Linked DNA regions of Homo sapiens. The protein of the gene in region 1 purifies or fractionates together with the protein of each later gene. This does not show direct contact. Each region holds a gene or a part of one and is shown in the gene's direction. Other genes may lie near its edges.

Region 1 (3,500 bases):
GAAAAACAAAGTTGTTTTTATCTGTGACTCCTGGCCTCAAGTGATTCTCCTGCCTCAGCCTTTCAAAGTGCTGAGATTATAGGCATGAGCCACTACGTCCAGCAAAGTTATTTTTGTTATGGTAATAAATAAATTGTTCTTTTTCCAGCCTGTGTCAGATCCATCTGTTGAGAGAATATAGTATGAACTGTTTTTTTTTTCTTCAGTATATCCCAGATCCACCCAGTTGTCTGTGGAAAGGTAAAACTAATAATTATTCTAGTGTTTTTTTGTTTAAGATATACAGCTGAACCATGCATATATTTATATATGAATATATATATATATATATTTTTTGAAGAGCAGATTTCTTTTTTTTCTCATAGAGACAGGGTCTTGCTTTGTTGCCCAAGCTGGGTCTTGAACTCCTGGCTTCAAGCAATCCCACCTCAGCCTCCCAAAGTACTGGGATTATAAGCCTGAGCCACTGTGCCCAGCCTAGATTTCAATTTTTGGTACACAAATAGGATACAGTTTAAAATGTAGATTGGTGAGGAATGCCTTCATTTGCTTTTCTTTAACTCCTTAAGTATGAGCAATAGAGTGCAGAGATGACATACTGTGACTGTACAAACAGCAGGAAATCTGCAATCTGAGACTTTTTTTTTTTTTTTTTTTTTTTGAGACGGAGTTTCGCTCGGTCGCCCAGGCTGCAGTGCAGTGGCGTGATCTCGGCTCACTGCAAGCTCTGCCTCCTAGGTTCACACCATTCTCCTGCCTCAGCCTCCCAAGTAGCTGGGACTACAGGCACCCGCCACCACGCCCAGCTAATTTTTTGTGTATTTTTAGTAGAAACGGGGTTTCACCGTGTTAGCCAGGATGGTCTCAATCTCCTGACCTTGTGATCCGCCTGCCTCGGCCTCCCAAAGTGCTGGGATTACAGGCGTGAGCCACCACACCGGGCCCAATCTGAGACATCTTATCTCATGACAGTTCATAGTCTTGGATGGTAAATTCCACATTCTTACCTTACAATTTAGATTAAATATGAAATCTTTATTAGAAAGCAGTAGATATCCAGCCTGGGCAACGTAGTGGGACCTTGTCTCTACAACAAATACAGAAATTAGCTGCAGGGCGTGGTGGCATGTGCCTGGAGTCCCAGCTACTTGGGAGGCTGAGGCAGGAGGATCGCTTGAGCCCAGCAGGTTGAGGCTGCAGTAAGCCACGATCACACTACTGCACTCCAGCCTGGGCAACAGAGCAAGACCCTGTCTCAAAAAAAAAAAAAATTGGCTGGGCATGGTGGTTCATGCCTGTAATCCCAGCACTTTGGGAGGCTGAGGCGGGTGGATCACTTAAGGCCAGGAGTTTGAGACCAGCCTGGCCAACATGGCAAAACCCCGTCTCTATGGAAAATACAAAAATTAGTTGGGTGTGGTGGTATGCAACTTTAGTCCCAGCTACTTGGGAGGCTGAGGCAGGAGAATCGCTGGAACCCGGGAGGCAGAGGTTGCAGTGAGCTGAGATCATGCCACTGCACTCCAGCCTGGGCAACAGAGCAAGACTCTGTCTCAGAAAAATAAAATTAAAAAATTAAAAGAGAAAACAATAGATATTAATAACTAAGTCTGCTTGGCCAGATAAGGGGAGATAAAAAGCTTCAGATATTAATTAGGAGCATGTCTTAAGAAAACCTCATTACCCACCTGGGGGAGATAGAATATTATTTGTGAAGTTACTGTCTCTTTTCTTCATGTTTTATCCTCATAGGACTGATCTAAGCCAGGATGACCCTGTTCAGGATCATTTGCTATTTAAGAAGACTCTCCTGCCAGTCTGGAAGATGATTGCCAGTCACAGGTAGGTCTCCAAAGTGGTAATAGGATTATGTTCAGAGCTGAAGCAGTAATACATATTGGGGTTTAAGCATAAAAGGAGATATGTTCATCCCTCAAATGAGCCATAGTTGAAAGGTAGATTCTGTATCTAAGCCCGATTTATCCCAAAGTACCCACAGCTGCTTTCACAAGTCTGTACAAGAAATAGTTGCTGTGCCATTTGAGTTGCCTCTAGAAATTGGTTCCTACTACATGATAAAATTTATATTTAAAATGTATATTCTTCTTTTCAATCTGGTGGATTCTCTTTTTTCACAGAGACAGGGCCTTGGGAACTTTGAACAAATTTCTGAGCCCTAAATCAGTATATTGTAATAATAGTGAAATATTTTATAGTTTTGTGTTTTTTTTAACTCTCTGGCAAGAGGGAACAAATAGATTTTTTCCTAATGGTGCTGACAGTCTGCATTCCCCTAAAGGAAGTCTACTAAGAACTGAGCTACTCTTCTCCTTCAGAGTGCCTTGCCAGGGTTTCTTTATCCTCTCTGGGTTTGTCCCTTAACAGGTTCAGCAGTCCATTTCTGAAGCCTGTGTCAGAAAGGCAGGCCCCAGGGTACAAGGATGTGGTGAAAAGGTCAGTGAAAAAGGGGTCAAGAAAGGTTGGTTGCTTTTATATCTGCCTTTTCATTTTTTATTTCCCATCTGTTAGATTATTTTTATAACTTACAAACTCAAGATATGTTTCATAGCCAAACAAGTTTATAAAGTTATGATGAGCTCAGTATCATATCTTCATTTAAGAAGGAATGCAGGGAACAAAAGGATGATATAGGCTTTTTATTTTGTACTATTGACTTTTAAGTAATATGATCCATTCTATATATATATATATTTTTTTTTTTTTTTTTTTTTGACAGGGTCTCACTCTGTTGCCCAGGCTGGAGTGCAGTGGTACAGTCTTGGCTCACTGCAACATCCTCTTCCCAGGCTCAGCTATTCTCCAGCCTCAGCCTCCCAAGTAGCTAAGACTACAAGCATGAGCCATCACGTCCGGCTAATATTTGTATTTTTTGTAGAAACGGAGCTTTGCCATGTTGCCCAGGCTGGTCTTGAACTCCTGAGCTCAAGCAATCCACCTGCCTAGGCCTTCCAAAGGCTGGGATTATAGGTGTGAGCCTTGGTGTCCAGCCTGATCATTAATTATAATCTTAAATTAGCCTTTGGTTGTTTTTGACACTATTCTTTTGGAGCAAAACTTTAAAAGGAACCCTGTATTTATTCAGTTAGTTATAGGTATAGTAAGGCACAGATGTCGATCCAAATGGAAGTTATGAACATTGGTTGATTGTAGTATTGTGTCCGGAATTGGTTCCTTCCGGTGGGTTCTTGGTCTCGCTGACTTCAGGAATGAAGCTGCAGACTCTCGTGGTGTTACAGTTCTTAAAGATGGTGTGTCCAGAGTTTGTTCCTTCGGATGTTCAGATGTGTCCGGAGTTTCTTCCTCCCGGTGGGTTTGTGGTCTCGCTGAGTTCAGGAGTGAAGCTGCAGACCTTCACAGCGAGTGTTACAGCTCTTAAAGGTGGCGCCTCTGGAGTTGTTCGTTCCTCCCAGTGGGTTGGTGGTCTCGCTGGCTTCAGGAGTGAAGCTGCAGACCTTGGCGGTGAGTGTTACAGCTCTTAA
Region 2 (3,500 bases), on another chromosome or scaffold:
ATCATCACACTGTATAATATTTCAGATTATTTTACAAATAATGTTTTCAGTGTATTCTGCAATGCCTTGTGAGACACTTAGGACAGGCATCTTCATTTTTTCCGTAAAAAAGGAAGGTTTAATAATTTTAAAAATACACAAATATTCAAATCAGAAATGCTTTAGTATGTGTTCCAAAGTCAATACTTCTCACTCAGTAGAGAAAGTAAACTATTTTGACTGGGCGTGGTGGCTCATGGCTGTAATCCCAGCACTTTGGGAGGCCGATGGGGGCAGATCACTCGAGGCCAGGAGTTCGAGACCATCCTGGCCAACACGAAGAAACCCTTTCTCTACTAAAAATACAAAAATTAGCTAGGCATGGTGGCTTGCCCCTGTAGTCCCAGCTATTTGGGAGGCTGAGACTCAGGAACCACTTTAACCCAGGAGGCAGAAGTTGGAGTGAGCTGAGACTGTACCACTGCACTCCAGCCTGGGCAACAGAGTGAGACCCTTCTCAAAAAAGGAAAAAGAAAGTAAACTATTTATTCAATCAGGCAAAAAAAAAGCAAAGTGTTAAAAAGCAATAGAAAGGTTGGATTTACATTAGCATTGTTTTACAATTTGAGAAGACAAACTGACTTGCTAACAATGTTCAAGCAGTTGGTATTACTGAGACTAAGGTTAATTTGTTGAGCATTGAACAAGTTTTGAAGCTTGCACACATATGTATATGCTGCAATGAAATAAAATGAATGGTAAAATTAGTTTAGCACTCATTTGATGCATAGGCATTATTTGGCTACATTGTAAAGCATAATAATAAGCCTATAACAGAGAGTGGTAATCTAAGACAAACCATAGAAGATTAAGTATTTGGGGCCAATTAAGTATATCTCAAAAATAAATCCAAGATATTAAGCATGAATTCATAAGGATCAAGATGAGGTCAGAGGCAGATTTAAGGGGCAAAGATAAGAAGATCGGTCTTCAAAAATTTACATATGAAATTATGCAAGGGCTTTAGGAGGCTGGAATATCTAGAAAGTGTGCGAAATGGCTTAATGAGAAAAACACAGGACCAGAGATTAAGAGATCGTGCATTTAGCCTCAACTATCTCTCAGTAGTTGTGTGACTTTGTGCAAATCATTTACTCCCCCCTCCAAATTATAATCCCCTCATCTTTGAGGCAAAGGTCCTCATAAGTGGTACTCTATCAGATGAATATAAAAATGCCTGCAGCAGAAATCATTAAATGTGTAGAACTGCTGCTGATGATGATTTATTTCTATTAATGATGATCTGTTGTAATTGATAAATTGTTCTATTTGATAATTTTCATAACAAAATGACAGATTTAAAATTTTTTTGTTGTTGTTTAGAGACAGGGTCTTACTCCATAGCCCAGGCTGGAATGCAGTGGTGCCATCATAGCTCACTGAAGCCTCAAACTCCTGAGCTCAAGTGATCCTCCCACCTCGACTGCCAGAGTAGCTTGGACTACTGGTGCGTGCCACCACACACAGCTAATTTTTTTCTTTTGTAGAGACGGGGGTCTTGCTATGTTTACCAGGCTAGTCTTGAACTCCTGGCCTTGAGCAGTCCTCCCATCTCGGCCTCCCAAAGCGCTAGGATTACAGGCATGAGCCACTGTGCCTGACCTAGATTTTTTAAAATAAGAATTTAAGGTACAAATACACCACAATTTATTATTTTTGTTAGTAATGATGTGACTCACCAGTCTGATTTTTTTAATTGTAGATTTATAAAATTATTCATTATAAAACATTTTGGTTTTCCTAATAATGTGTTTTCCAGTTTTAAGACTAACTTATTTCTATTTTTATTTTTCAAATTCCTTAGCACTCCCGATTTGGAAAAACAACCAAATGAAAATGGTGTATCTGTTCAGAATGAAAATTTTGAAGAAATTATAAACTTACCCATTGGATCTAAACCATCCAGATTAGATGTCACCAACAGTGAGAGCCCAGAAATTCCTTTGAATCCAATTTTGGCCTTTGATGATGAAGGGACACTTGGGCCCCTGCCTCAGGTAGATGGTGTTCAGACACAGCAGACTGCAGGTAAGCTTGCCTCCAACTCCCTTCTGTAGTCATCAGAAATATCTGACACCCAGGAGGACACGAACTGCTGCCTTCTACAGTATGATTGTGGTAACACTTTGTTCTTCAAAGGACCAAGTAAGCCACAGTGGAAGAGATTGTGCCTGGCTCATAGAAATTGAATTTTGAGTTGGATTGGACAACTTCTAAGGCCTCTCCTATTCTCTCAGTCAGTGCAGAAGTCCAGTCCGCAGCACCCAGTGGGTGTCTGTCAGCCTCTCTGCACAGAGCAGCACCCATTACCCGACATCATGCATGCTCAGAATATGCTTTGTAGAAAGACAGGGCTGTCTCCCCATAATTTTGGACCATCCGGCCTAGTGCTGCCCACTAGAGAAAGATCTGAGTTTTTTCCATCTTTCTGAGGTCTTCATGTATTTGAAGACTGCCATCATGTTCTCCCACCATTTTTCTCTTATTTGGGTTTGGCAACCTGGGTAATAAATTATTGTCCTTTCAAAATGTGACATGATGGATAGTTACGATTTAGGTGATGAAACCAGTACTCACACTGAGTCTAAAGATCTTAACTTGTTAAATGATTTTGTTGCTGTTGAAACTGCCTGTGACTTTCTTATACAATGTCTCTTTGACCCACACTTGACCTGAAGTCTTTGTGCAAAAAGAACAATCAGGACCCAAAGAAAGAAGACATAATATCAAATATTACTAACTCAGTGGTCATAGCAGCTCAGCAACGCAATCCCATCAGTCTCAGGAATTAGCAAGATAATCTGTGCTCCCTGTCTCTTCAAACCTGTTTCAATTTTGTTGACTTCTCTTCCCTGAAGATGACTGTCATGTATTGACCAGCATCTCTTTATATTTCTACAAAAAGAACTGGCCAAATTCAGGATAACTAAATGGAGACAATACAGAATTATTTGTGGGCAAATTGTTTTGCCTTCTAGATTCAATCAGTGAATCTGTAATAAATCAACTTTTAATTCGGTGTGATAACCAATGTGAGCCACCCATCCAAATGAAGCTACTCTTCTTTTCTCCTCTAGTGTACTGACCTTGGAAGTGGAACCTCACTTTAGTGAACTCCACTTTTCTAGGATTTGAAGGGAGGTTGTAAGGGCCCTCCCCTGTCTGACTTTCTGATTCTTAAGCCTTTGGGAACAATCCGACTAATGGTATGTTGATGGAAACATGCCCAGTGCAGCTTCCTACTCATGTTACAGATTTACAGGAAGGGAAAGAACTTCCAGATGATTTATCAACATTTATTTAACCTCCAACATATGTTTAGAACCCTAAGCATCAGATACTGAGGATACAAGAGAAATGAATGTTTAAACCCCTAACCGAGAAAAGTACAATCTGTGTATGCCACTTGGAAAAATGAAGGCTGTGGCCTAAGCTGATGTAAAGAAAAGAACATATGTTTC
Region 3 (3,166 bases), on another chromosome or scaffold:
TGGCCAAACAGCCTAAGAGTTGCACGCTAGGTCCCATCAAGCTGTGTCCCAGCACATCCTGGGGAGGAAGCCACAGTCAGGAGAGCTTGGCTACTCCTGGTTGGATATCCTTGGGTGAGCTATGCACCTAAAAGCCTCAGTGTTGTCAGTGGGATTTTGTAGAGTCTAATTTCACTGTCTAGCCAATGACCCTGATGAAGGCACAGTAAGTGTACACATGTATATCCAAAAATAATTCCCCTTAAGGTTGTTCTAAGGGTCACCCTTAGTGCCCTTAGTCACCATAGCAGCAAAGGATTCCCACTAACATCTAAATCAGATGGTGTCAGTGCTCTGTGCCAAATCCTCTAGTGCTTTCTGACCTTACCCACGATCCTTGCATTGGCCTATGAGGCCTACCATGAGCTGCTTGCCTTCCCCCACCCCATCTCATCTACTTTTCCTTACTCCTTCTATGCCAGCCACACTTTTCTTCCTGCTCCTCCTTTAACTCGAGAGGTCGGCAAACTTTTTAAGGGTCAGTCAGTATTTACTTTCTTTCAGCTTTTTGGGCAATGCAGTCTTCAATGCTGTGACTCAGCTCTACTGTTGTACTGCAATGGCAGTCACGGACAATACGTACATGAATGAGCACGGCTGTATTCCTATCCAACAAGCCGGGGACCGGATTGGACTGCAGCCTGCTGACCCCTGATCTAACTCTTCAGTCACACATCTGCCTCCAGTCCTCTGCACCTGCTGCTCCCCTGACATACACATGGCTCTCTCCCTCACCTCCTGCAGGTCTTCATTCAAATGTCACCCTCTCAGGAAGCCCTGCCCAGGCCACACTAGCACTGCCACCCTGCTTTTGCTCTTAACGCTCATTTTGGTTATTGTCTGTCACCCCCACCCGCCACCGACTAGAATAAGGGATTTTGTCTGTTTTTTTCACCAGCGAATTCCCAGCTGCCTTGTATATAGCAGACATTCAAGAAATATTAATTAATTGAATAAATCAGTCTTGTTACGAAATTTAGGAAAAGGGGAGCCATTTCAAAAACAATATCCCAAATGTACCCTAACACAGGATAAGGGTTTGCAATATCTAGAAAGCCCAGGTCACCAGATTACATCATAATTAGTGATGTCACTGTTGGGAAAATTCTCAGGGTATCCTCTGATGTAGGCCTTTCAGGCCTTGAATCCAGTGGGATTGAGAACTTTCTAAGAGTGGTGCGGCTCTTGACAACATGTGGGCTCCACCAGCAGCAATCATGGGGGATGGGCCCACCAAGAAGGTGGGCAACCAGGCCCCCCTGCAGACACAGGCCCTCCAGACTGCCTCTTTAAGGGATGGCCCGGCGAAGCGGGCCGTGTGGGTCCGCCATACGAGTTCAGAGCCACAAGAACCTACTGAATCAAAGGCAGCCAAGGAGAGGCCCAAGCAGGAGGTGACCAAAGCAGTGGTCGTGGACCTGGGCACTGGCTACTGTAAATGTGGCTTTGCCGGCCTGCCAAGACCCACCCACAAGATCTCAACAACGGTGGGCAAGCCCTACATGGAGACCGCCAAGACTGGGGATAATCGCAAGGAGACATTCGTGGGGCAGGAACTCAACAACACAAACGTTCATCTCAAGCTGGTTAACCCTCTGCGACATGGCATCATCGTGGACTGGGATACAGTGCAGGATATCTGGGAATATCTCTTCCGACAAGAGATGAAGATCGCCCCGGAGGAGCATGCGGTCTTGGTTTCAGACCCGCCACTGAGCCCACACACCAACAGAGAGAAATATGCTGAAATGCTGTTTGAAGCCTTCAACACCCCTGCAATGCACATCGCCTACCAGTCGCGCCTGTCCATGTACTCCTATGGAAGGACCTCCGGCCTGGTGGTGGAGGTGGGCCATGGCGTGTCCTACGTGGTCCCCATCTACGAGGGTTATCCTTTGCCCAGCATCACCGGAAGGCTGGACTACGCGGGCTCTGACCTGACAGCCTACCTGCTGGGCCTGCTGAACAGTGCGGGGAACGAATTCACCCAGGACCAGATGGGCATCGTGGAGGACATCAAGAAGAAATGCTGCTTTGTGGCCCTGGATCCCATTGAGGAGAAGAAAGTCCCTCTCAGTGAGCATACGATCCGCTACGTGCTGCCGGATGGGAAGGAGATTCAGCTGTGCCAGGAACGGTTCCTCTGCTCGGAGATGTTCTTCAAGCCATCTCTCATCAAGTCCATGCAGCTGGGCCTCCACACCCAAACCGTGTCCTGCCTTAACAAGTGTGACATCGCCCTCAAACGGGACCTCATGGGGAACATCCTGCTCTGCGGGGGCAGCACGATGCTCAGTGGCTTCCCTAACCGTCTGCAGAAGGAGCTAAGCAGCATGTGTCCCAATGACACCCCGCAGGTAAACGTGCTGCCTGAAAGAGACAGTGCCGTGTGGACCGGTGGCTCCATCCTGGCCTCACTTCAGGGTTTCCAACCATTGTGGGTCCACCGCTTTGAGTACGAGGAACACGGGCCTTTCTTCCTCTACAGAAGGTGCTTCTGAACAGCGACGAGGATGGACACTGCACTGGCAGTGCCTACCCTCGACAGGGTGAGCGCACTCCTACACACAGGGGGTGGAGCCGGCGCTTATTCCTGTAGCATTAAACACCCCTCATATGCCCCTCCACAGTGTGTTTCTCTACTTCCTGACTTCATAAGAAACAACTTCACACGTGCAGCGTCTGCCTTAAAATATACATTTCCCAAAACAAAAGCAGGAGTAGGGGGAGGATGAACAAAAAAGGGCATGCATTGTATGTGGATTGCTTAAACATTCACTTGTTCTAAAATTATGCTGCCCCTTATTTTGTGCATTCCCCGCTTTAGGAACTACTTTACGGTTAAACTCTGCTTGGAAGGGGGAGTGCAATGAAGATTAGAGGGTAAATGCTGTTGGGGCATATAAGCAGTTCCCTTTCCATAAATGCCAATAGGAAGTATGCTGTAACAGTGCAAACTCCCACAAAGCATCAGTGTCCATTTCATACTTCATCAACAACCCTGAGGGACTGGAAAGAGCTGGCAAAGCTGTCTGAGCCCTGCTTTAACAGGAGTTTCTTTTAGTTCCAACAGTCATTTATGTCTCAGTACCAGTTCTTACTAAGCCATCACAGCGACTGGCTGCTG
Region 4 (2,785 bases), on another chromosome or scaffold:
ACACATTTCCTCACCAGAGTCTCAAGGCAAACCACCTCTTCTTTCTTTTTTCATGAGACGGTCTCACTCTGCTACCCAGCCTGCAGTGCAGTGGTGCAGTCTCGGCTCCCTGCAGCTGTACCTTCCAGGGCTCAGGCGATCCTCCTACCTCAGAAGCTGGGACCACAGGCACCATCACCGCGCCTGGCTAATTTTTGTATTTTTTGTACGGATAGATTCTGCCGTGTTGGCCGGGTTGGTCTCAAACTCTTGGACTTAAGTCATCCGCCTACTGCAGTCTCCCAAAGTGCTGGGATTATAGGCGTGAGCCACTGCGCCTAGTCTTAGCCTCTTTCTTTTTTTAATTTTTAATTTTTAATTGTTTAAGAGTGAGGGCCTCACTGTTGCCCAGGCTGGAGTGCAGTGGTGCGATCTCAGCTCACCTGTAGCCTCCACATCCTGGGCTCAATCTATCCTCCTTGGAGGACAGAAAAATAAAGGTGTAAGATACGTTCCTGCCAGGAACGGCCCATATCATGTGACCAGCCCCCATGGGGGCGGCCTCCTGAGTGACTGGGACCACCAGTGTGTGCCACCATGCCCAGCTGATTCAAAAACATATATTTTGTAGACACAAGGTCTCCCCATGTTGCCTAGGTAGGTCTCAAACTCTTGGATTTCAGAGGGTTCAAGTGACCCGCTCGGCCTCCCCCCGTCCTGGGGTTGCAGGCGCGAGTGACCCGCCTGCCTTGGCCTCTCCCCATCCTGGGGTTGCAGGCATGAGCCCCTGTGCCTGGCCTTGACCTTCTAGAATGACGCGGAGACTTTTGAGCCTGTTGGCTCTGCCTGCTCTTTTCCCAGTTCACGTACTCTTATCTGGAGTTTGGTCCTGTCCGTTCTAAATCCTGCAAATTGGACATTAAAAAAACTAAAAGTAAGAGGATCTCCCTGTGTTGCCCAGGCTGGTCTCAAAGTCCTGGGCTAAAGGGATCTGCCTGCCGCAGCCTCCCAGCATGCCGGGATTACAGGCACAAGCCCCAGTGCCCGGCCAAATTGGACGTTATTACTTCCTTTCCAAAAGAGTGGTTTACATTTTCCTCCCCACACACGGTTCGTGCCTCCACCCCGGTCCCGCGTTCCCTGCTGTCCTGACTGCGTCTTTAAGCTTCATCCCGTTGGTCCGGCCTGTTGGCGATGTGCTTGGGGCAGGAGGCCTTGCCCGTGCCCGCCCCCCAACTCTGATTGTGTCTGTCTTTCCTTGGTGCCACTTTATTTGGGTCTTTTCTGCCCAGGACATGGCCCACCTGGACCTAGAGCTCTGTGACATTTCTGTGAAGCCTCCGTCTACCTTTGGGACTCAGCAGAGGTGTGTTTAGAATTCACTCTGCGTTTTGGGGGTCCCCATGCATGCTGAGGTGCTGTTCCCTGCCCACCCGTGTCCGATCCGTCTTGGCCTCCCCGACCTCAGGGTGCCTAGGACCCCCCGACCTCTTTGGGTATTTGGTTTCTGGCTCAGGAAGAGCAGCTGCCGGGTCCTGGAGGAGGGGCCTGGGAAGCGCTGGCAGGCGTCACTCCTGCGACCTCCCACCCCTCCCTGCATGGCTCCTGCGAGGGTCACCGCGTGAGTCCGGGGGCTGCTGTCCTCGCGCCTCAGACCTGATTCTGGGGACCGCGGTGAAGGCGTGGCAGGCGGGCATCACTCCCTTCCCCCGCCTCCATCGCTGCCTCTCTCTGGGTCTGCGTCCTCTTCTCACAGGGACAGCAGTCGTTGACTCTCCCTGATCCAGGAGGGTCTCTCCAGATCCTTCCCTAACAGCAGAGGCCCGGCTCGTGGGGAGGGACTGGGACTCAAGGCTTCTTCACCAGCCTGAGGTTGGTGCTGGGGCTCGGCGGCGGCTGTGAGAATCCTGTGCTGGAGAAAGCGTCTCTCGGCCGGCCTGTCTGGGGCGTCTGTGCCTCTCCTGGATGGGTCTCAGTTTGGCCCCGTCCATCCATCCCAGGAGCTGCGGTGGAGCAGACAGGGAGGGGTGCCCCAGGAACCACAGCCCCGTCACTCCTGTCTTCCTTTAAGTGAACCGGTCGTGTAGATGGAGGTTGTTCAGAAAGGGATAAGATGGGACGGCAGCTGGGCCTCATCCCGCAGTGAGCGCGACGCAGAGGCTGCCGGGCTTGTGGCAGGGGCTTCGGCCAGGGCAGAGTCGGGCCTCACGTGCAGGGGGCTGAGTGTGGGCCTCAACACTGGACTTGGCCACTGACTGCAGTGAGCCCCAAGATGGGGCAGGAGGTGGTGTTTCTGTCCTGGAGACCCAGGGTGGCTTGGGTCCTTGGGATGTGTGGGGACCTCGGGGTGAGGGCCCGTTGGGGCCGGGTGGGCACGGCAGGAGAGCGGGGGCCACACACCCAGAGGCAGTGCCGTGTCCCGGCTGGGAGGGTTCCTGGGAAGCTCTGCTCAGCCCCAGTCTCAGTCATTTCTAGAAACTGTGTTTTCCTCCCTGTGACGTCACACGTGAAGGAAACGGAAAAGGGCAGTGAGTCCTTCGCCCCGCGGCGCCGTGCGCACGTCAGCCTTCAGGGTGATTCCGCTCCTCCAGAGGGGCAGGCGCGGGTGTGGGGGGTGGGGCCCAGGCCCATCCTGAGGGGTCCCAGGCATGAGGGGCTCTGAGCTGTGTCCTGGGGTGGTCTGGGCCATGGGGAGGTTCTGGATCATGTCTTGAGAGGTCTGGGCTGTGTGGGGGGTCCAGGCCATGTCCTGGGGGTCTGGGCTGTGTCTGTGGGGAGTCAGGGCCATCCATGTATTGGGGGTCTG
Region 5 (4,255 bases), on another chromosome or scaffold:
GATTAGAACCATTTGAGAGACTGTTTCCTTGATATGAAATGCAAGCACACTCATTAGTGATCATGGTCAAGACCAAATGGCCAGTTTCTGCCAGCAAACGATTAACTTTGATGACAGATGTGTAAACCAAAAATAATTAAATTATTTGGTAATCATTCTTCCTTGCTGTAGGCTTTAAATAGTATTAGATCTTTGGGCATGAAATATATTTAATCCAGTTGTTAGATATAGTTACATTTTCAAAGCTGGATGAATCTTGTATTCTCACTGAGTACAGTTCTCCAACTGATGTGTCAAGGATGATGCTTGTATAACTATAGGAGGGAAATCCTCTGTGATTAATGCATGCAGGAGAAAATACTATGCTCTTCCCTGTGGGTGCAGGGCATGTTTCTACATACCCACATTGTGTGGGAAGCAGAGTGGTTATACTTGCCCTTCTTGGATTTTTTCTCAAGGCAAGACCCTGGCCTCATCCTCCAAATGCATGTTCCAGTCCCTCTCTCACATCAGGGGTGTTTACGAGACTGACTTGGATAACTTTTGCAAAATATACTTGCCTGGCCCTCTGTCTCCCCATTGGACATTTGTTTCATGAGGAGTATCATTTCTAGGGTAAAAGCAAGGATTTTGAAAAAAAATTCTTTGCCATTTTATCAGAAGAATTATATTTAATGAAATTAAAAATAAAAATAGGTGATTTTGATGTTCACCCTAGGCTAAGAGGACCACTGCTGTCTTTGAGGCATTTACAGACATATGGAAATCTGAAGCATACTTAGAGTTGCGGGTTCTTTCTCTGTAATTCTTTTAAACTGGGCATAAACCTCAAAGGGAGTGTAAAATGCAGAGTGTTGTCAACTTATCACACCAAGAATATTTTTTTGCACCTTTTTAGTTTGGAAGGGTCAAATTGAGATGACAGAGGAATAGTGGATAAGAGCTATAGTGCTATTAAATTACATTCTAGAGTTGGGAAAATCGAGACCCATAATCCTAGGAATTATTAATGATAAGAGCTAACACTTTCTGAGTGCTTACCACATGCCAGGCCCTATACTGAATGCATCATGTCCATTTTCTCATTTGATCCTGACAACCACCTGTGAGGCCTCATTTTGAAGACAAGCAAGCTGAGGCTCAGACCTTGGATTTGTCCAAGGTCACTCAGTTGGTCATTTACAGAGCCCTGATTCAAACTCTCTTTTGCTTGATTACAAAGCCATTGCTCTAAAAGATTAGATTATACTGTCTGTATTTGCTTCTGGGAGCTTATGGAATTCACTCCTATCTGTTCTCACAAGGAACTCTATTGGGTTTTGAAAAAGGCTAAAGAATTGAAAAGAAACTTTGTAGGCTGGGAAACATAGTGTCCTTTGAGCAGTGAGATAGGCTAAGCTCAGAGGACTGGGCTCTGGAATGTGGAAAGGAGACGTGCCCACTGGAGAGCAAGTCAGAACTTTCGTGAGCCCTGCTCCAGGTCCCAGGAGAAAGTGCCAGCCATGAGGACTGGAGTATTGCCTGGTAAGGAGAAGATTATTATTTTATCTAACACGTTCTTCTATAACGCTCTATATGCTAGGCACTGGTCTGCACTGCTCTAAGTACTTTATAAGTATTAACTCCTTTACATCTTATAACACTTCCCTGGAAATAGGCATTATTATTGCCCCCATAATACATATGAGTAAACTGAAGTTCAGAGATGTTAAATAACTTGTTCAAGGTCACATAGCTGGTTAAGTGCCAGAGCCAGGCTTTGAACCTAGGCAGTCTGGATCTAGTGGCTGTGTTATACTGCTTCGCAACAGAAACTTGATTTTTCTTTCTTCTGTGTTTATCATCCTTTCTCAATCACTCCTGGGCAAGTCTACTTTGCTAGCAAATTTCCCTTACCCCTTTGGCTTTTTTTTCACCCATGAACCCTCTAATGTTTTCTGCAGCTTCTTTGAGCTCATTCTTTATCTTCCACACTGCCTCTTTTGGCATTACTCATGAACGACATGCTCTTTTCATCTGCCAAATATTTTTTCCATAAATTATCCCATCTCAACTTGGGAAGTCACAATGGGAAGTATTGTTCCTATTTTGTGAATGAGGCAACTAAGGCAAGCAACTTTCCTGAAGTCTCACACAACCATCTAGTGGCAAAGTGCACTAGAATCCAGATTCTCTGATTCTGAATCTAATGTTCTTGTCCATTGCACCATCTGATGGAATTTAACTATCTATTCATTAATTAATTTATTCATTAATATTGTAAAAATATACTGAGTGTCTTACTGTATGGTAAGGCCCTGGGTGCAAAAGTCGGTATAAAAATTGTTGCTCTTAAGCAACAGACAACACAGAGAGATAAGGTCTCACCATAAAAAGTTAAATAGCAGCACATATACTAAGTGCCAAATGAGTGGTCTGGTCACATCATACAAGAATTTTGAGGTTGGATATGTAGCATCAAAGACTGCTTTATCAGAAAGGTGAGACTTGAACTTGGCATAGAAGGGTACTTAGAACTTAGAGAAGAGAATGGAGCAGCACTTTCCAAACTCTGGGAATGGTGTGCATTAAAGCAGTCCTTCACAACCTTTATTGTGTCATGGCATGCAGAGAAAAGCATAGTATTTGTAAAGCACACTAGGCTGAATGGAGGAAGCAGTTTGACATCTAGAGGCAAGCATTCTAGGAGTTTCAACAGCACTGTCTCTGGGCTCAGTTGAGGACAGAGAAGAAATCTCATAGCCTCAGACACTTGTAATATGTTTGGGAAGGTCTGCACTAGGTATTGGGGGCACACTGTGGTCATGGTGGGTCTAAAGACCACTGACAAGCCCACAGGGATGAAATGAGGGGAATTTCCAGAGAAGCCATAGTAGATACCATTGGAAAGAAAAGTTATGGGCAAATGATGAAGGGCTTTTGAATTTTATTCTGTGGACCTACAGAATAGGTAGGCAAAATATGCATAGCACTGTTTTAGAAAGATTCCACTGGTTTTCATATGGGAGATTAACTAGAGGGAAGAAGAGTAGTCAAGAGGCTATTACCATTGTCCAGGTGGGAGGTGATGTTATCTTGAACTAGATTGATAGTAATAGAGACAGAGAATGGTGGACAGAATTGAGTTATATTTTGGAGGTAAAAATGTCAGGGTTTGGTAATAGAATTGCATAATGGAGAGTAGAAGAAAGGGAGGTGACAAGGAGGATTTCAAATTTTCAAGTTTAAGCAAATGCTTATGAATAGTGATGCCATTCTTTAAGATAGAGAGCCCAGGAGAAGTAGAAAGATTTTTTTGGAGGGGAAGGACAAATGAGATGATGAGTTTCAAGTTGACATTTGGAGGCAAGGAAACCAGTTAGGAGGCTATTGTAAAAGCCAAGTAAGACAAGGTGAGATCCTGGACTACAATGGTAGCAGTGGGAATGGAAGGAAAATGGTGAATTGAGAGACATTATACAGGAAGAATTGATAGGATTTTGTCACGGACTGACTTCTGGAGTTGAAAGGTAGAGGAAGGCTTGAAGCCTAAGATATCTTCTGTCCTTTATCTTCTTAGTGATGCTCCGATCTTCGTGGCTTAATATACTATCTATTTGCTGATGAGTCACAAATTTGTATCTCCATACTTTTATGCCCAATTGCCTGCTGGACATATCAACTTGCATGCCTAATAGGTATCTCCAACTTACCATGTTCAAAACTGCCCCTGCCCACAACCCCCAACAAAACCTGCTGCACTCACAAAACCTGCTCCTCACAGTCTTCCCCGTCTCCCTAAATACCAATTTCATTCTTCCGGTTGCTCAGGCGGAAGACCTAGGAATCAATCTTGATTTTTCCCTCTTTCATATCCTACATTTATTTGATCAGCAAATCTTATTGGTTCTACCTTCAGAATATATCTAGAATCTGACCACTTTTTCATTGCTACTATCCTGGTTTATGTCACAATGATCTGCTTCCTGGATTATATTGCACTAGCCTCTCAACTGTTCTCCTTGCTTCTGTTCTTGCCACCATCACTCAAGCCTATTATTCTCTCACTGTTTTTTGGAACCAGGATAATTTTATTATGTGAATGTCAGATCATGTCACTCCTCTGCTCAAAACTCCTCCAATGGCTTCCCATCTGACACTCAGTAACAACAAAACCCCTTATAATGGCCCATAATGCTGTATGCAACCCAGATATTGACATACTCCTGTCCTTCAGGTGATGGATCAAATATCCCACTTGGTAAAATCTTCTCTG
Region 6 (2,668 bases), on another chromosome or scaffold:
GCATGGGTCCCTCCATCCTTGGGCTTCCCGGGCCCCTGTGACAGGGGAAAGGGCTCTCTTACACCGCACTCAGGGAGACCACTTCTCAGGATGGGGTCAGATGGAGAGACCTCTAGGGAGAAAGACATCCCCATTGTGTGAGTGGCATTTCCTTAAGCTGGCAGGAACAGGGAGCAGCCCTGTGTCGGGGGCTGGAATAGTTCTGGCCAGACCCCGTTCCCCTTCCTCTATGAAGGAATAAGTTGGACCAAGGGAAGTCGGGGACGTAAAAAATGAAGCAAAACAATGCCAGGGTGTCTCCCGCTTTACTCTTCAGGAATGGTGTCCCAAGTTGGAGGCTTTGTGTCAGCTGCAAATCCTACCAGTTATGTCCAAGAATGGCTTTCCCTCGGGCAGGTGGCAGCGGCCATCTCCCACTGGGAATATGGCGTAGTATCTCCGGTCCATTCCTTGGATGCTAAGGACTGCGGGAATGAGGGAGTCAGATAAAGAACAAACCTCGAAACGAACAGTTAAATTGAAATGCTATGTGCCTGACCCAATGGTAGGCACATAGTAGGCACTCAACTCATATGTTTAATTGAATTGAAAATATCCCTTAGGAAAAAAAAAAAACACACAAAAAACCACAAGAGCCCCAGCCAGTTTACTCCAGGTAGATTTCCACAATATGCAAAGTGGTGGTGGGGTCAAGACAGATGACACCAGCACTTTAAACTCTTTGTGTGGGTATGCGTGGGTGTATGTTTGGGAAGAAAAACAAAGGTGCAGACTATCTTCCTTTTTTTCTTCTTCAGCCTCCATCCCTGGCCTCCTCCCCTCACACACACTGGACTTGGTACAAAATGTCGGTGTGGTCCTAGATGAAGCATTGGGGTGGGGGAGGGAGAGGGAGCTTTGTGTTAAGTGCCTACTGGAAATGCACTGTGGGGTTTTTTCCTGTATGGGAAACCATTTATGCCAAGCTTTTCCCCATTTCCCATATTTATCTCATCTGGTTAGCTGCCTCTGCTTCCAGCTTTGTGTAATTCTCTTTGCCAGCTGCACAAAGCTGATTTTTTCCAAAGTCTAAAGACTGAGCTCACCTGGCTAGATTGTTGTGTGTTTTGTTGAATTTTTTCATAATGTAATGCCGTATTTATTGTTTTTAAAATGAAAGGAATACTAATAAGTCTTAAAAGTTCCTTCATGCATAAGATTTTTTTCCAGTTACTGGGTTTAACTGGTGTACATTAATTAGATGTCCATACTGTATTTTGTTTGCATTAAGTAATTTTCTTTTTGACTTAGTATCCGGCACACAAAGTGGGTTAGTACTACAGTATTTGCGTTACTTTAAGTACTAAGTATGCAGGTTTCCTGGTACCATTGAGTTGCTGCTATTAAAGCTCACACACGAAATGGCTAAAAGTTACAAGTGTGCAAATTATGACTGCGTGAGCCTTAGAAAATAAAATGTATAAAGGGCAACACATGAGCTGTCAAACAGTGTTAGGAGTGTGTTTATATGTACAGAGTTGTGCATAGCAATCGTTTTATTTAAGTTGATATGTAGTCTACTCACATTTTCATTATTTAGCAATTTTGTACAAAAATAGCAATTAATTTGTAAACACTGCCAGAATACTTTCTAGCTGCTTTGTAATTTTTTAAGAGTGTTATTTTGTTTTTGTTTTTCTGTTCTTTGTTGTGGCTCTTGTTTTCATTTTTGTTGTACGTGTAGATCTGTAAATAAAATTGCAGTATTTAAAGCTTAAGCTTTCAGGAAAAAGAAAATAAGAATTCAGTGTGTGCATGACAACTCGTGTGTATGAGAAGGAGGGATATGAAGGAAGATGGCTTGCAGAGTAAGTCGGGTGGCAATTGTCAGGGTGTGGGAATTTCTTTTCCTACGGGGTACGTGATTTTGTAAAAAGGAAGTATTTCTCCCAAAATTGGGAGTAGGCAAACTACTAATCAGTTTAGCTTTGTGTTGTATGCTAGTTTAAAAAAGAAAATATGTAATATAATGTAAAAAAAAACAAAAAAAAGCTTTTATGATGGATTTTGTAAATAGATTTGTTACAGGGTGACCTGTTCTCTAGCTGTGATCTTACCACTTCAAATGGGTGTAATTTGAATAAATTTTGTATGGTAAAGGATCAATAAAATGATTTTTTTTAAGAGTTCAGGCTTGTGGATGGGTTTTCTTTAATATTATCTTGTGCTCCTCTATTAATTGAATTTTTTTCATTTTCTTTTTCTTTTTTTTTTTTTTGTTTTGTTTTTTGAGGCAGAGTCAATCACTCTCACCCAGGCTGGAGTGCAGTGGCACAATCTTGGTTCACTGCAACCTCCACCTCCCGGGATCAAGTGATTCACCTGCCTCAGCCTCCTGAGTAGCTGGGACTACAGACACCCGCCACCACGACTGGCTAATTTTTGTATTTTGAGTAGAGACGGAGTTTCACCATGTTGGCCAGGCTGGTCTCGAACTCCTGACCTCAAGTGATCCGCCTGCCTCGGCCTCCCAAAGTGCTGGGATTACAGGCATGAGCCACCGCGCCCAGCCTATTAATTGAATTTTTTAAAACATTCTTAAACAAGTTAAGGAGAAAGGCTAAACAAAAGCTTAAAACATCGTTTGCCTTAGACGGTATTTGGGACTCAGAACACTCAGCAAATATTT
Region 7 (3,500 bases), on another chromosome or scaffold:
AAGCTATGTCTTGAAAAGGACCAAGATATAAAATGACACTAAATTAAGGTGTAAATATTTTCTCAAAAAAGTTTAAGACTTGGCCAGGTGCGGTGGCTCACGCCTCTAATCCCAGCACTTTGGGAGGCCAAGGCGGGCGGATCACGAGGTCAGGAGATCGAGACCATCCTGGCTAACATGGTGAAACCCGGCCTTTACTAAAAATACAAAAAATGAGCCAGGCGTGGTGGCGGGCGCCTGTAGTCCCAGCTACTCGGGAGGCTGAGGCAGGAGAATGGCGTGAACCTGGGAGGCGGAGCTTGCAGTGAGCGGAGATCCCGCCACTGCACTCCAGCCTGGGCGACAGAGCGAGACTCCGTCTCAAAAAAAAAAAAAAAAAATTAAGATTTATCCATTGCAAGTTCAAATACTATGTGAAGATATGATCAAGGAGAAGAAACGCCATGATAAAGTAGAGCTAATGACAGAAAGAAGAAATCAGTTAGGTTTTTTGATGCATGTATTCTTGAGAACAGTCTCTCAGGTATTGTGAAATCTTCGTTAATCAAGGTATAGTATATGATGATGTTGTATAAGAGACCTTCAGCAAGAAACTATATTGAGTCACTCTAGATTCATATATGTGCATGTGTGCATGTATCTATATATGGGTTCATATATATATGGGTTCATAAATATATATGGGTTCAAATGCCAATATTAGAGTTATTGATAACAAATCATAGATTCCAGGCAGATCACTGGAGTTCAGGAAAGAATATTTAGCAGGAAAATTGGCCAGGTATGGTGGCTCACACTTGTAATCCCAGCACTTTGGGAGGCTGAGACGGGCAGATCACTTAAGCTCAGGAGTTTGAGACAAACCTGGGCAATATGGCAAAACCCCATCTCTATAAATAAATACAAAATATAGCCAGGCATGGTGGTGCATGCCTATAGTCTCAGCTACTTAGCAGACTGAGGTGGGAGGATGGCTTGAGCCCAGGAGGCAGAGGTTACAGTGAGCCGAGATCATGCCACTGCACTCCAGCCTGGGTGATAGAGCCATACTTTGTCTCAAAAAAAAAACAAAAAACAAAACCGAATATGTATATTTAGTAGGAAAATTATGTCGCATTTGGGCTAGGACACTGCTTTGGTGGACTCTCTTATCATTTGGTTCTTGTACCAGGACACAGACCAACCCCTTAGCTAAAAGGAACTCCCTGTTGTTTTTGCCTTTCCTCTACTGTAGTTGGATTCCTACAGTATTTTTCTGTAAAATAACCATTCCTATTTCTTAAGCATCAATGAAAAATAATAGTATTTTTCTTCTTCCAAAAGCTTGCCACTGCTTGGTTAAAAGAAGGGAGGGGGTGGGGAGATTGATGGGGGCAGGGAGGTTCACGATGCCATTACTTGAGCTGGCAGCCTCTTTGCTGCCCAACTTCAGGGAAATGATAGGAAGAGCAGGTATAATCAGGACAAGAAGGTCCCCAGGTTAGAGGGAGAGCAGTCATTCTGCCTGCTGACTTTAAAATGCTTTCTTGTCCTCTTATTTTAGAATGCAGGTCTGGTGACTGTCACTACCACTCCTCTCAACTGTGGCCCTCGACTGAGGGTGCTCCTGGGCCGCCCCGCACATGAAAAGCTGCTGATGCTGCTCCCCGTGGGGTACCCCAGCAAGGAGGCCACGGTGCCTGACCTCAAGCGCAAACCTCTGGACCAGATCATGGTGACAGTGTAGGCAGGGCCCCCCAAGGGAGTGGCAGGGAGATGGCGCCCCTGCTTTTCCCTGAGCCTCTCGCCTGCTCCTCTTGGGTCTCTTGGCTGCTCTTTCTCCAGGTGTCAGGTCCCCTCATTGCTCTTCTCAGGTGGCCACACTATGTCAAGAAGCCTCTCCACACTCTGTGGCACTTCCAGTCCCATAAATCCTGTTTCTTATCCACTTTGGAAATGCATGAACACTTTACAAAGAACATGCCCGGGTTTTTACATTTTAAAAGTTATTCTAGACAATCACTATTGGCTTTTTTCTTTTATTTTTAAAAAACTCACATAGAGGAGACAATCAGAAATTTACCATAGTCCCAAGAATTCAGCTACATGATGACTCGAATTTAAATTTAGATTAATCAAATGGTCTCCTGTTCTCTGATTTCTGGTGGCTTTTAGACACTAATTTTTGAGAACTACTTTTTTTTTTTTACCAAACTTCAGGGACACTCTGCTAGTTTTGAATAAGTAACCATCAAAGTTACTAAAACATGGCCAGGCGCAGTGGCTCATGCCTGTAATCCCAGCACTTTGGGAGGCCGAGGTGGGCAGATTGCCTGAGCTCAAGAGTTCGAGACCAGCCTGGCCAACATGGTGAAACCCCATCTCTACTAAAAATACAAAAAATTAGCTGGGCATGCACTTGTAATTCCAGCTACTCAGGAGGCTGAGGCAAGAGAACTGCTTGAATCCGGGAGGTAGAGATTGCAGTGAGTCAAGATGCTGAGATGCCACCACTGCACTCCAGCCTGGGCAACAGAGCGAGAACCTGTCTCAAAAAAAACAAAAACAAAGTTACTAAAATGTCACCTTCACAGAACAGGACAGGGTACCCTTGGGTCGCACGGGCCTGGCTGGCATGTAAACGGTCAGTTGCACTGCCTAGTGGTTTGGTAGATCTGACTTGTAAGCAGTTCATAGAAGCTGCTCAATACTCAAGAATCTTGCAAGACAGTTATTAAACATTCATAGCTTGAAATTGCCCATGGTGGGAGAGTTTACATCACAACCACTACAAATCAGCACTTGCTTTCTTCTTCTTAAAGAGAGCTGCTTACCATACATAGCACCCACAGTGTCTCCCTTCTCTTCTACCCCAACCCCTGAAACACACTGACCCCTATTCTCCAGATGACAGCACAGCTGTTTGGGACTGATAGGGTCACAGTTGCCAGGTTGGGAATGCTAGATGTAGTCTTCACCCATCACCTTCTGTCGTCCTCCCAGGGGTGTCATATTTACAGAGGCAAACTCTTACAGCTTGGATGATTTCTCATCAAGCAACTCTACTCACCTCTTTTTCCCCTTTCCCTGTGCGTTTCTTCTTCTTGTCCTCATTTTCCTTGAGAAAACTCTCTCTATAAAAAATTTCCATAGAGTATGTGGCTGATAAACAACAGAAATTTGTTTCTCACAGTTCTGGAGGCTGGAAGTCCAAGGTCGGGGTGCCCTCATGGTCAGGTGCTGGTGAGGACCCTGATCTGGGTTGCAGACTGCTGACTTCTTATTGTGTCCTCGTGGTAGAAAGAGGGTTAGAGCCTCTGGCATGCCTTTTATAAGGGTACTAATCCCATCATGAGGCCCCGTCCTTATGACCTCATCACCTCCCAAAGGACCCCCTCCTAATACCATCACATTGGGGGTTAGGGTTTCAACATATGAATTGCGGGGGACACAAACATTCCGTCCATGGCACCTACTTCATAGGGTTTGGCATGCTGCTCGGTACATGGTTAACATTCATA

The links.
Region 2: the proteins of BRD8 (region 1) and MAP7 purify together in Homo sapiens (affinity purification with mass spectrometry, with the first as the bait; one large-scale study listed by BioGRID). This does not show direct contact.
Region 3: the proteins of BRD8 (region 1) and ACTL7A purify together in Homo sapiens (affinity purification with mass spectrometry, with the first as the bait; one large-scale study listed by BioGRID). This does not show direct contact.
Region 4: the proteins of BRD8 (region 1) and SDF4 purify together in Homo sapiens (affinity purification with mass spectrometry, with the first as the bait; one large-scale study listed by BioGRID). This does not show direct contact.
Region 5: the proteins of BRD8 (region 1) and RTL9 purify together in Homo sapiens (affinity purification with mass spectrometry, with the first as the bait; one large-scale study listed by BioGRID). This does not show direct contact.
Region 6: the proteins of BRD8 (region 1) and E2F3 purify together in Homo sapiens (co-immunoprecipitation; one study listed by IntAct). This does not show direct contact.
Region 7: the proteins of BRD8 (region 1) and IYD purify together in Homo sapiens (affinity purification with mass spectrometry, with the first as the bait; one large-scale study listed by BioGRID). This does not show direct contact.

Annotation. Positions count from the first base shown.
Region 1 is NC_000005.10:138,144,131-138,147,630, reverse strand, and holds part of BRD8 (bromodomain-containing protein 8), read left to right. Parts: intron 1-1,752; coding exon 1,753-1,842; intron 1,843-2,385; coding exon 2,386-2,454; intron 2,455-3,500. UniProt on the Homo sapiens protein: May act as a coactivator during transcriptional activation by hormone-activated nuclear receptors (NR). Isoform 2 stimulates transcriptional activation by AR/DHTR, ESR1/NR3A1, RXRA/NR2B1 and THRB/ERBA2.
Region 2 is NC_000006.12:136,344,423-136,347,922, reverse strand, and holds part of MAP7 (ensconsin), read left to right. Parts: intron 1-1,843; coding exon 1,844-2,067; intron 2,068-3,500. UniProt on the Homo sapiens protein: Microtubule-stabilizing protein that may play an important role during reorganization of microtubules during polarization and differentiation of epithelial cells. Associates with microtubules in a dynamic manner.
Region 3 is NC_000009.12:108,861,091-108,864,256, forward strand, and holds ACTL7A (actin-like protein 7A), read left to right. Parts: upstream 1-1,175; 5' UTR 1,176-1,232; coding exon 1,233-2,540; 3' UTR 2,541-2,666; downstream 2,667-3,166. UniProt on the Homo sapiens protein: Essential for normal spermatogenesis and male fertility. Required for normal sperm head morphology, acroplaxome formation, acrosome attachment, and acrosome granule stability.
Region 4 is NC_000001.11:1,219,217-1,222,001, reverse strand, and holds part of SDF4 (45 kDa calcium-binding protein isoform 2 precursor), read left to right. Parts: intron 1-1,271; coding exon of another isoform or gene 1,272-1,303; exon of another isoform or gene 1,304-2,785. UniProt on the Homo sapiens protein: May regulate calcium-dependent activities in the endoplasmic reticulum lumen or post-ER compartment. Isoform 5 may be involved in the exocytosis of zymogens by pancreatic acini.
Region 5 is NC_000023.11:110,357,393-110,361,647, forward strand, and holds the start of RTL9 (retrotransposon Gag-like protein 9), read left to right. Parts: upstream 1-1,455; 5' UTR 1,456-1,524; intron 1,525-4,255.
Region 6 is NC_000006.12:20,491,547-20,494,214, forward strand, and holds the end of E2F3 (transcription factor E2F3), read left to right. Parts: 3' UTR 1-2,168; downstream 2,169-2,668.
Region 7 is NC_000006.12:150,396,512-150,400,011, forward strand, and holds part of IYD (iodotyrosine deiodinase 1), read left to right. Parts: intron 1-1,543; coding exon 1,544-1,726; 3' UTR 1,727-3,500. UniProt on the Homo sapiens protein: Catalyzes the dehalogenation of halotyrosines such as 3-bromo-L-tyrosine, 3-chloro-L-tyrosine, 3-iodo-L-tyrosine and 3,5-diiodo-L-tyrosine.